2 linked regions of the Homo sapiens genome follow. The protein of the gene in region 2 purifies or fractionates together with the protein of the main gene of each other region. This does not show direct contact. Each region holds a gene or a part of one and is shown on either strand. Other genes may lie near its edges.

Region 1 (4,175 bases), on a different chromosome or scaffold from region 2:
TCATATTTGTGGCTAAGTTTCAGCAGAAGGGTTTTGTTATTAAGTAATACTTTTTGTCCTGCCACCCATATAAACATCTTTCATATCAGATTTCATTCCAAGGATGTTTCAAGAAACCATTCGGTTCAAACACGTTTGTGACCTCTGTTCTTCAGGCCCCAGACACACAAAGATGAAGGCCAGGTGAATTTAGGTGCATCAATCATTACTTAAAATGTGCCTCTTAATCTCAACCAACCACAGCAGGCAAAAGAGGAAGAAAGACTAAAAGCTCTACCCAAACACTAACAGTAGTTGCTTCTAAGTGACATTTTTCTGCCACATTATACTTCGGTATGCTCCAAATTTTCTACAATAATCTGGTTTGGTTTAAATAGGAACACAAAAGAGTATATCCTTGTAATGGGGACAAAAATAGGAAGATCAATAAGACCTAGTATTTGCTAGCACAACAGGGTGACTATAGTAAAAAAAAAAACAATTTAATTGTAAATTTTCAAATAACTAAAAGAGTACAATTGGATTGTTTGAAACATAAAGGATAAATGCTTTTGGTGACAGCTACCCTATGTACTCTGATGTGATTATGCATTGCATGCCTATGTCAAAATATCTCATGTAACCCATAAATATATACACCTACTAGGTACCCACAAAAATTAAAAATTAAAAAACAAGAATATATCCTTGAAGCTGGGAACTTTTACTTGCTAATAGATGGTACAGAATTTACTGCAATGAGATTCTGCTTGTATACTAATAATTTTTACTTTAAAACAGACTTTAAATACAGAGTTTATATCTCAGATATAATTTAATGCAACATCTGCTTTCTAAAGATGCAAAAATCGAGATGGTAGGATCGCTTGAGCCCAGGAGGCAGAGGTGGAGGTTGCAGTGAGCAGAGATTGCGCCACTGCCCTCCAGCCTGGGCAACAGAGCGAGACCCTGTCTCAAAAAAAAAATGCAAAAATTAAGAGTCACAGTTGAAATGATTTGTTTAAGATCACACAAATAGTAACAGTTTCAGGACTAAAGCCAATGTTCTTGATTTCTAACTCAGAGCTCCTTCCACTATGACACTGTTTGAATTATGCTTCTCTGAAGTCCACCACCAACTGGGGAGCATCTGCGGTGTATGAGGTGCTACTGGAATACAAAGATGGCTAAGAAAGAGCTATTCCCTGGACTCACGGGAGGCAGTTCAAAAAAAAAGAAGGCCGGGCGCGGTAGCTCACACCTGTAATCCCAGCACTTTGGGAGGCCGAGGCAGGCAGATCACCTGAGGTCAGGAATTCGAGACCAGCCTGGCCAACATGGTGAAATCCTGTCTCTACTAAAAACACAAAATTAGCTGGGCGTGGGGGCGCATGCCTGTAATCCCAGCTACTCGGGAGGCTGAGGCAGGAGAATCGATTGAATCCAGGAGGCGGAGGTTGCGGTGAGCCAATATCGCGCCATTGCACTCCAGCCTGGGCAACAGAAGCGAAACTCCGTCTGAAAACAAAACAAAAAAAAAACCAAAACAAAAGAAAGAAAGAAAGAAAAAAGACAAGGCCAGGCACGGTGGCTCACGCCTGTAATCCCAGCACTTTGGGAGGCCGAGGCAGGCAGATCACCTGAGGTCAGGAGTTCAAGACCACCCTGGCCAACATGGTGAAACCCCGTCTCTACTAAAAATACAAAAATCAGCCAGGCGTGGTGGCCTATGCTTGTAATCCCAGCTACTTGGGAGGCTGAGGCAGGAGAATCACTTGAACCCGGTAGGCGGAGGTTGCAGTGAACCGAGATCGAGCCACTGCAGTCGCTCCAGCCTGGGCGACAGAGCGAGACTCCGTTTCAAAAAAAATAAAAAATAAAAGACAAATTGACATGAGTTCTGCTTTCACTATTAAAAAACCTTTAGTACCTACAGGTGAAACTTAGCTTTTGATTTTTCCCCTTCTTGGAAAGAGTCTGCATTTAGTCAGCTAACATTCTAGTACCACTCACAAGCTAAAGATCTTCCGTAATTTGCAAGGGAGGCAGTAGGGGGATGAGAGTTATAAGTTAGCTAACAACCAACTATTCTTTAAAGCTTAACTGTGAACTTAACTGCAATTATGCATTTCATTGACCTTCTCTAGTGTAATACCAGCTCGTCCCTTAGAAAAGAGGAAAATACACTTACGTTTTTATTTCTAGTGGTTCTAAGAACTTGTGATTTGGCTCCAGATTCCTACATGAAAACACTGCATATATTCACCTCCTTCTCTTTTCACCGCATTCGAGTTTTTCTGTCTACTACACAAAATGATAGATAGGGCCAGGTCTGCCAGAACCCTAAATACAGCGGCATCGCCCTGCTTCCTTCCAGGGGATCTTACTATTGGAAGGGCTCTGCTACACAGTACCTCAGACATCCAGAAGAGAGTTTATCTTCCCTCCAACTTCTATATATTCTTGCCATAAGGACAGCACTACCAAAGCGGGCTCCTCCTCTCAGTTGACAGAACGGTGACTGCCTGCGAGGCTCATTCTGAGATAGGGACAAGGGAAAGGGACCGGGGCGATAAGTGAGGGTCCCAGCTTGAGGGCTGGAGTGGGCACCAGACTCCCACCAACGACTAAACCGGGGGAAGTAAAGAAACTGGCCTTCCCCGCACCCAAAAATAAAACATCACATCACTAAAAAATGTAAACGTTCGCAACATTTTCTAAAACAAAGCCACTCACCTGCAAAGGGGCCACCAGCAGCAGCAGCAGCAGCAGCAGCCGCTCCTCCGAGCCGCCAAAGAGCCAGCGCCTCCTAGGACTCATCACTGCCGCCGGCATCGACGCTCTTTTCTAGCCCCTGAACCAGACGTGGGCAGGTCCTAGGGCTCTGCCTATTGGAAAGTCGAACTGTCACTCATCCACGGTCCCGGCCTACTCCCGGAACAGGAGAGGTCTCTTCCGTTTACCAAATCCCAGGAGTAAGAAGTGGGGCTCTGATTGGTTTACTCTAGAGACGAGCACATACCTGAACCAGTAAGGAGTTGGCTTCGACGCCAGCGGGCAGGCTTGGGCCTAGGGAAGTAGAAAAACACACCCTAGAGCGTCGCTGGTGCAAAACCTCGGGTGCGGGGAGCATCTTAGCTGTTTGAGGTTCTAGAAAGCGTTTAACGTCTTAAAAGAAACACCTGCGGGTGAAGACAGGTGTCAGCGGACTCTTGGAAGAGAGGAGGTGATGTTTCTTTTACTTATGGGAAATTTAGGGATTGAAACCTGAAGACGAAGCCGAGGTATCCTCCCAGAAGAAGCTCCTTTCGCACAAATTACTCGTGGTTGAAAGTCTTAAGTCGTGATTAAAACAAATGCCTTTAAAGTGCCCAATTTATAGGCAGTAACGCAACCTTACTTTCTCTTACCGCTTTTATAGGGATTCCCCTAGGCAGTTTGCTGACAGTATTTTAGGTGGGGAAGAAAAGTGATTAATGGAATGCCCTAAAAGCTTATTGCACAGAGGAAGGGAGGCTAGAGTGGAATGAGAGAATGACAAATTTGGAGGCGACAATAACTGAACAAGAGAAATCTATGAAAACACCGGAAACCTGGCACGAGGCCTTAAAAGCTTCTAAGCAGGCTTGAACTACCACACGAGGTTTTGAAGCATATGTGTCAGAACTCTTGGGTGGGCGGGAAAGATAAGGAATGTTATGGGAGATTCCCTTCTTAGAAGCTATCCTAAGTAGTGTTTCGTGTCCTCCTGTGAGTTTTTCCTGTTTCATCCTCCTAACAAATGCATTAGGTTTGTGACACGCAAGCAAGTCCTCAGAATAAATTATACATACAGTTGAAAAGATAATCTTTCCACATTTGAAATTCTGTGACACACTCTTTATTGAACTCATTAAGACCTAATCGTAGCCAGTTCTGTATCTCATTTATCCATGTTAGAGCATGACAGTTCCTCCTGGGATATCAACAGAACTTTACTTCCGGGACGGCACTAATCCGAGGCTTGACAGGTCCCAGCAGGTGATAGGTCTCACCTAGTGATAGTTAGAATTTAACTTGCACAAGATTAACTAGAGTTCAGGCCAGAACAGCTGGAAGGGGCAGCTTCCAAATCTTATACATTTGCCCTCTTGCTTTTTTCTCAATATCAGTTGAGGACAAAGTAAGGAGAAAGCTTTTCTTCTACAGTGTAATAA
Region 2 (4,136 bases):
AACAACAGCCACAGCAAACATTTATTGAGTGTTAGACTGGGCCAGGCACGTGGAGAGCTCCATAAAGCTTAGCACAGGGCCACATCGACTAGTCCCTCAATAAATATTGATTAATTTAAAAAAATACAGAACTGAATTGTCGAGCTGATCATGGGGATGGTGAGGAGCATAGGTAGGGGGTTGCTGTGGTGAAGTCTTGGTAGGTTCACTGTCTCCTGTGGGATGAGATTCAGAATACGTCCATCTGAGGCATCTGTACTTGTATGTCAGAAGCTATGGGGTGAGGTTATTGACAGAGTCTGTTGTGTAAACTTTCTTTGTGAAATATACTACCTTTAAGCTATGTTACGGCTTATAGAACAATGTGGTGTCTACATCTCAGGGGCATTTTAATTCAGGGAAGTGAGTGTTGGGGTGAAATCAGGGATCTGCTTTTCTTTTGAAATATTGATAGAAGGTTCTTTCTGTGCACCTGCACTTCTCTATTGGATGGCGCTGGATGTGGTTGCCTTTTGTGGCTCTTGGTTGCAATACAGTTCTCTTGTTGAAATGACCTCCTTCTGACTGACACATCTGCCCTAGGCTCATCAATGGCTACCAAAGCCAATGGACACCTTGTGGAACATAGTGTGGCATTTCACCCATGGCCTTCATGAAATGTACCTTTTGCGGTCTATGATCCAAGGCTTTTGTAGTTTTCCCTCCATCTTTTTAGTGTTGTTCTCAGTCCCCCTCATGGGCTCTCCAGGTGTTCCTCTATCTCTTCTAAGTTCTCCATTGTAATTGCCACCTATAGTCTCTACCTTCAGTGAGTTAGATGTCTCTCCCCAGCCCCTAGTCCTTGTATCTTTGGACTTCATAGGCAGATGTCTGCATCTGAATAACCCATACCCATCTTAAACTAGTAAATAAAAATGGAATGCACGATCATGTCTCTGTCTCCCATCCTCACCTCTATACCTGTTCTCCATTTAGTAAATGGCACCTCCATGCACCTGCCCAAGTGAGAAGCCTGGGGGTCATCCTTGACCCTCTCCTTTCCCTCGTCCCTCACCCCGTTGTTCTCCAATCCCTGGGATGAGTCTATCTCCTAAATATCTCTTGTATCCCTGTTACCTTCTTCACCTGCCAGGCCACGAAGATCATTCACTCCTCGCCATCTCCTTCTTAGGGCACTGAAATGGTTGCTGAAATTGTCTCCCTGTTTCGCCCTTGCCCACTGGCATTTGTTTCCCACCTCCCTCTTAGAGATCTTTTAAGAAATGCAGATTACGGTTCCCGCCTCACAATGCAAAGGTCAACGGTGACGCCATCTGGAGCGCGCTTGGAATCCAGCAGGCGGTTGCTGCCGCGTCTTCCACAACCTCCGCGGTCTGGAGCTGGCCTCCCCCACCGCCGCCCCAACCACCGGCCCCGCCGCCATCACCACCACCGTCACCTCCGCCGCTGCCTCCTTGGGGCCCTCCTCCTTCACCGCCCCCTTAGCCACCTCTACACATTCTAGGCTTTCTGTCCTGGAGAAGAAGCTATAATCGGTTTCCTTGTGGGCCCGGTGCGCAGCCATGGCGGACGGTGGCGGCGGCGGCAGCGGCGGTGCGGGCCCGGCCTCGACCCGGGCCAGCGGGGGCGGCGGCCCCATCAACCCGGCCTCGTTGCCCCCTGGCGACCCTCAGCTCATCGCTATCATCGTGGGGCAGCTCAAGAGCAGGGGCCTTTTTGACAGCTTCCGCCGGGACTGCAAGGCTGACGTGGACACCAAGCCAGCTTACCAAAACCTGAGCCAGAAAGCGGATAATTTTGTGTCGACACATCTGGACAAGCAGGAATGGAATCCTCCAGCAAACGACAACCAACTGCACGATGGTCTGAGGCAGAGTGTGGTTCAGTCAGGGAGGTCAGAAGCTGGAGTGGACAGGATTAGTTCTCAGGTGGTGGATCCAAAACTAAACCACATCTTCAGGCCACAAATAGAACAAATAATTCATGAATTCCTGGTGGCCCAGAAAGAAGCAGCTGTGCCAGCACTCCCTCCAGAGCCAGAAGGCCAGGACCCTCCAGCTCCGTCTCAGGACACTTCCTAAGAATATGCCTGACAGCTTTTGAAAGCGCTATTTAATTTTTGGTGAAGAAATGGATTCGGTTACATAAGAGTGCAGTTTCAGATTGAAGATAAGCCAAGTTCATCACTGAGCTCAAGATTTCCACCTCGACCATGAGCAGTGACCAGATTGAAAGGGAAGCAAGTTCGCCAGAGAGAAAGTTGACCGTGGCACCCTCCTGCATTGCGCTGCCATTTGGCCAGCCTTTCCAAGGGCATGACACCAAACACACACTACAGAGAGGGAAACACTACCGCGACCCAGGATTGTCCTGAAACAGACATCTATACTTGAACATGGAGACTGCACATGGATTTTAGGGTTTGTGCTCTGAGATAAACGAAAGCTACAGCGAGAGAACATAACCAATCCCAAAGACAATTTCAAAGAACAATGACAGTAAAGGTTAACTGGGAGGAATATTTGACAGTACTTATTTGATATTGTCTCTCAGAGTTGCAAACTAGATTGTACACAACATTAGTGTCAGATAGCTTTGAAGTTGTGACCTTCTTGTACATGAATCTTCTAGCCAGTTTCCTTTCCTTTGTAAGAGATAACAAAGCATGAAACCCTAGAATGAGTGAGAAGTTCAGACATTAGGTATAAGGAAACTCATTTGCAGACTCTCTGTCCAAGAATGCTTCCTGTCTTGCAGGGGCTAGTGAGTCTTGGGTGTGTTTATGTTATGCTCACATTTGTGTTTTATTTGAAAAGTGGATGGTCAATAAATGGCTTATCTTTCAACTGCAACAACAAAAAAGAAATGCAGATTTACATCCTTTTCCTCTTTAAGCTCCGTCAGTTTTCTGATATTTCTAGAAGGTCAGACACCTGGCATGGTTTATGAGGCCCGTGATAATGGGGCCCCTGGTCACCTCTGCTGCCCCGTACACTGTCATTTCTCATATGACAACCATGCCCATGACTATCCTGGACACCCTGTGTTCCCTCTGCTCACTGTGAAGGGAATGCCCTCAACCACTCCTACCCTCCTTTAAGACTCAGCTCCTGAGGAGCCACACATCGTCTAAGCAGGAGTGACAGACTCCTTCCTCTGTGCTCCCATAGATCTCATAAGGGATGACCACACTTACTATAGTAGCTAGGTCTGACGAAGCACTTGCTCTATTGCTCTACAGCTGGCAGTGTACTAAACGCTTAACTTCGCTTACCGTAGTAAGTCCTCATGATCTAATTGAAGAAATCGTATCTTTATTCCCATTTTTATTCCCATTTATAAATGTAGAAACCAAAGCTCAGACACTGCCTAAGTGGTGGGGCTGGGGCTGAGCCTGTATTGAGCACAGAGCCCTCACTTTTAACCCTTTTAACCATGCTTTTAGCCACACCACCTCACCACAGTGAACTGTCTTTGCTTACAGATCTGTCATCCCCACTTAAATGTGAGCTTCCTCCAGGGCAGGGATTTGCTTTGTTCATTTCTTTTCCTTAACCCCAGGACCTAGCACATCACAGGAGCTCAGCAATTTGTAGAAAGAAACCAGTTCTGGATTTGTCTTTTCCAACATTTAATTTCTCAGATGGCAGTATTTATCATCTAAAAAGTGAACAAAAATTAATTTTGCATCTAGTGTCTACATGTCTAAGCAAGAAAGAGCTTTCTTATCCCTGGAGGTATTTTATCTGTAATGTTTACCTATGAGCTATTTTAAATGATTCTTCAAAATTTAGAGTCCAGAAGGTAGAAGACCATGTCCTTTCTGAAAATGTCCCTTCCTTTCCCAGGTACCAGGCTCTTTTTAAAATTAGCTTCTGAATATGAACAACCCAGCTCTTTAAAGTTTAATGTCCCAGCCATTTTAATTGTTTCTTTCGAAGTACAAAAGAGCAGCTGGGCCACATCGGCACTAATCACTTGCCAACTTTCCTTTTTACAAAAACAGCTAAGCTCTTTCTGAGATTTAAAATCACTCCATCTGAGACCCCAGCTTGGCACCTATCTTTGCACTAACATAAAAGGAACCTAATTTCTGCTTTTAAGAAATGTGTTGCGGAAGTGATTTTTGGTTTGGG

The links.
Region 1: the proteins of BOD1L2 (region 2) and BPGM purify together in Homo sapiens (affinity purification with mass spectrometry; one large-scale study listed by BioGRID and IntAct). This does not show direct contact.

The regions. Positions count from the first base shown.
Region 1 is NC_000007.14:134,645,478-134,649,652, reverse strand, and holds the start of BPGM (bisphosphoglycerate mutase), read right to left. Parts: upstream 2,801-4,175; 5' UTR 2,716-2,800; intron 2,519-2,715; exon of another isoform or gene 2,394-2,518; intron 1-2,393. UniProt on the Homo sapiens protein: Plays a major role in regulating hemoglobin oxygen affinity by controlling the levels of its allosteric effector 2,3-bisphosphoglycerate (2,3-BPG). Also exhibits mutase (EC 5.4.2.11) activity.
Region 2 is NC_000018.10:57,145,751-57,149,886, forward strand, and holds the start of BOD1L2 (biorientation of chromosomes in cell division protein 1-like 2), read left to right. Parts: upstream 1-1,336; 5' UTR 1,337-1,562; coding exon 1,563-2,081; 3' UTR 2,082-4,136. UniProt on the Homo sapiens protein: May play a role in proper chromosome biorientation through the detection or correction of syntelic attachments in mitotic spindles.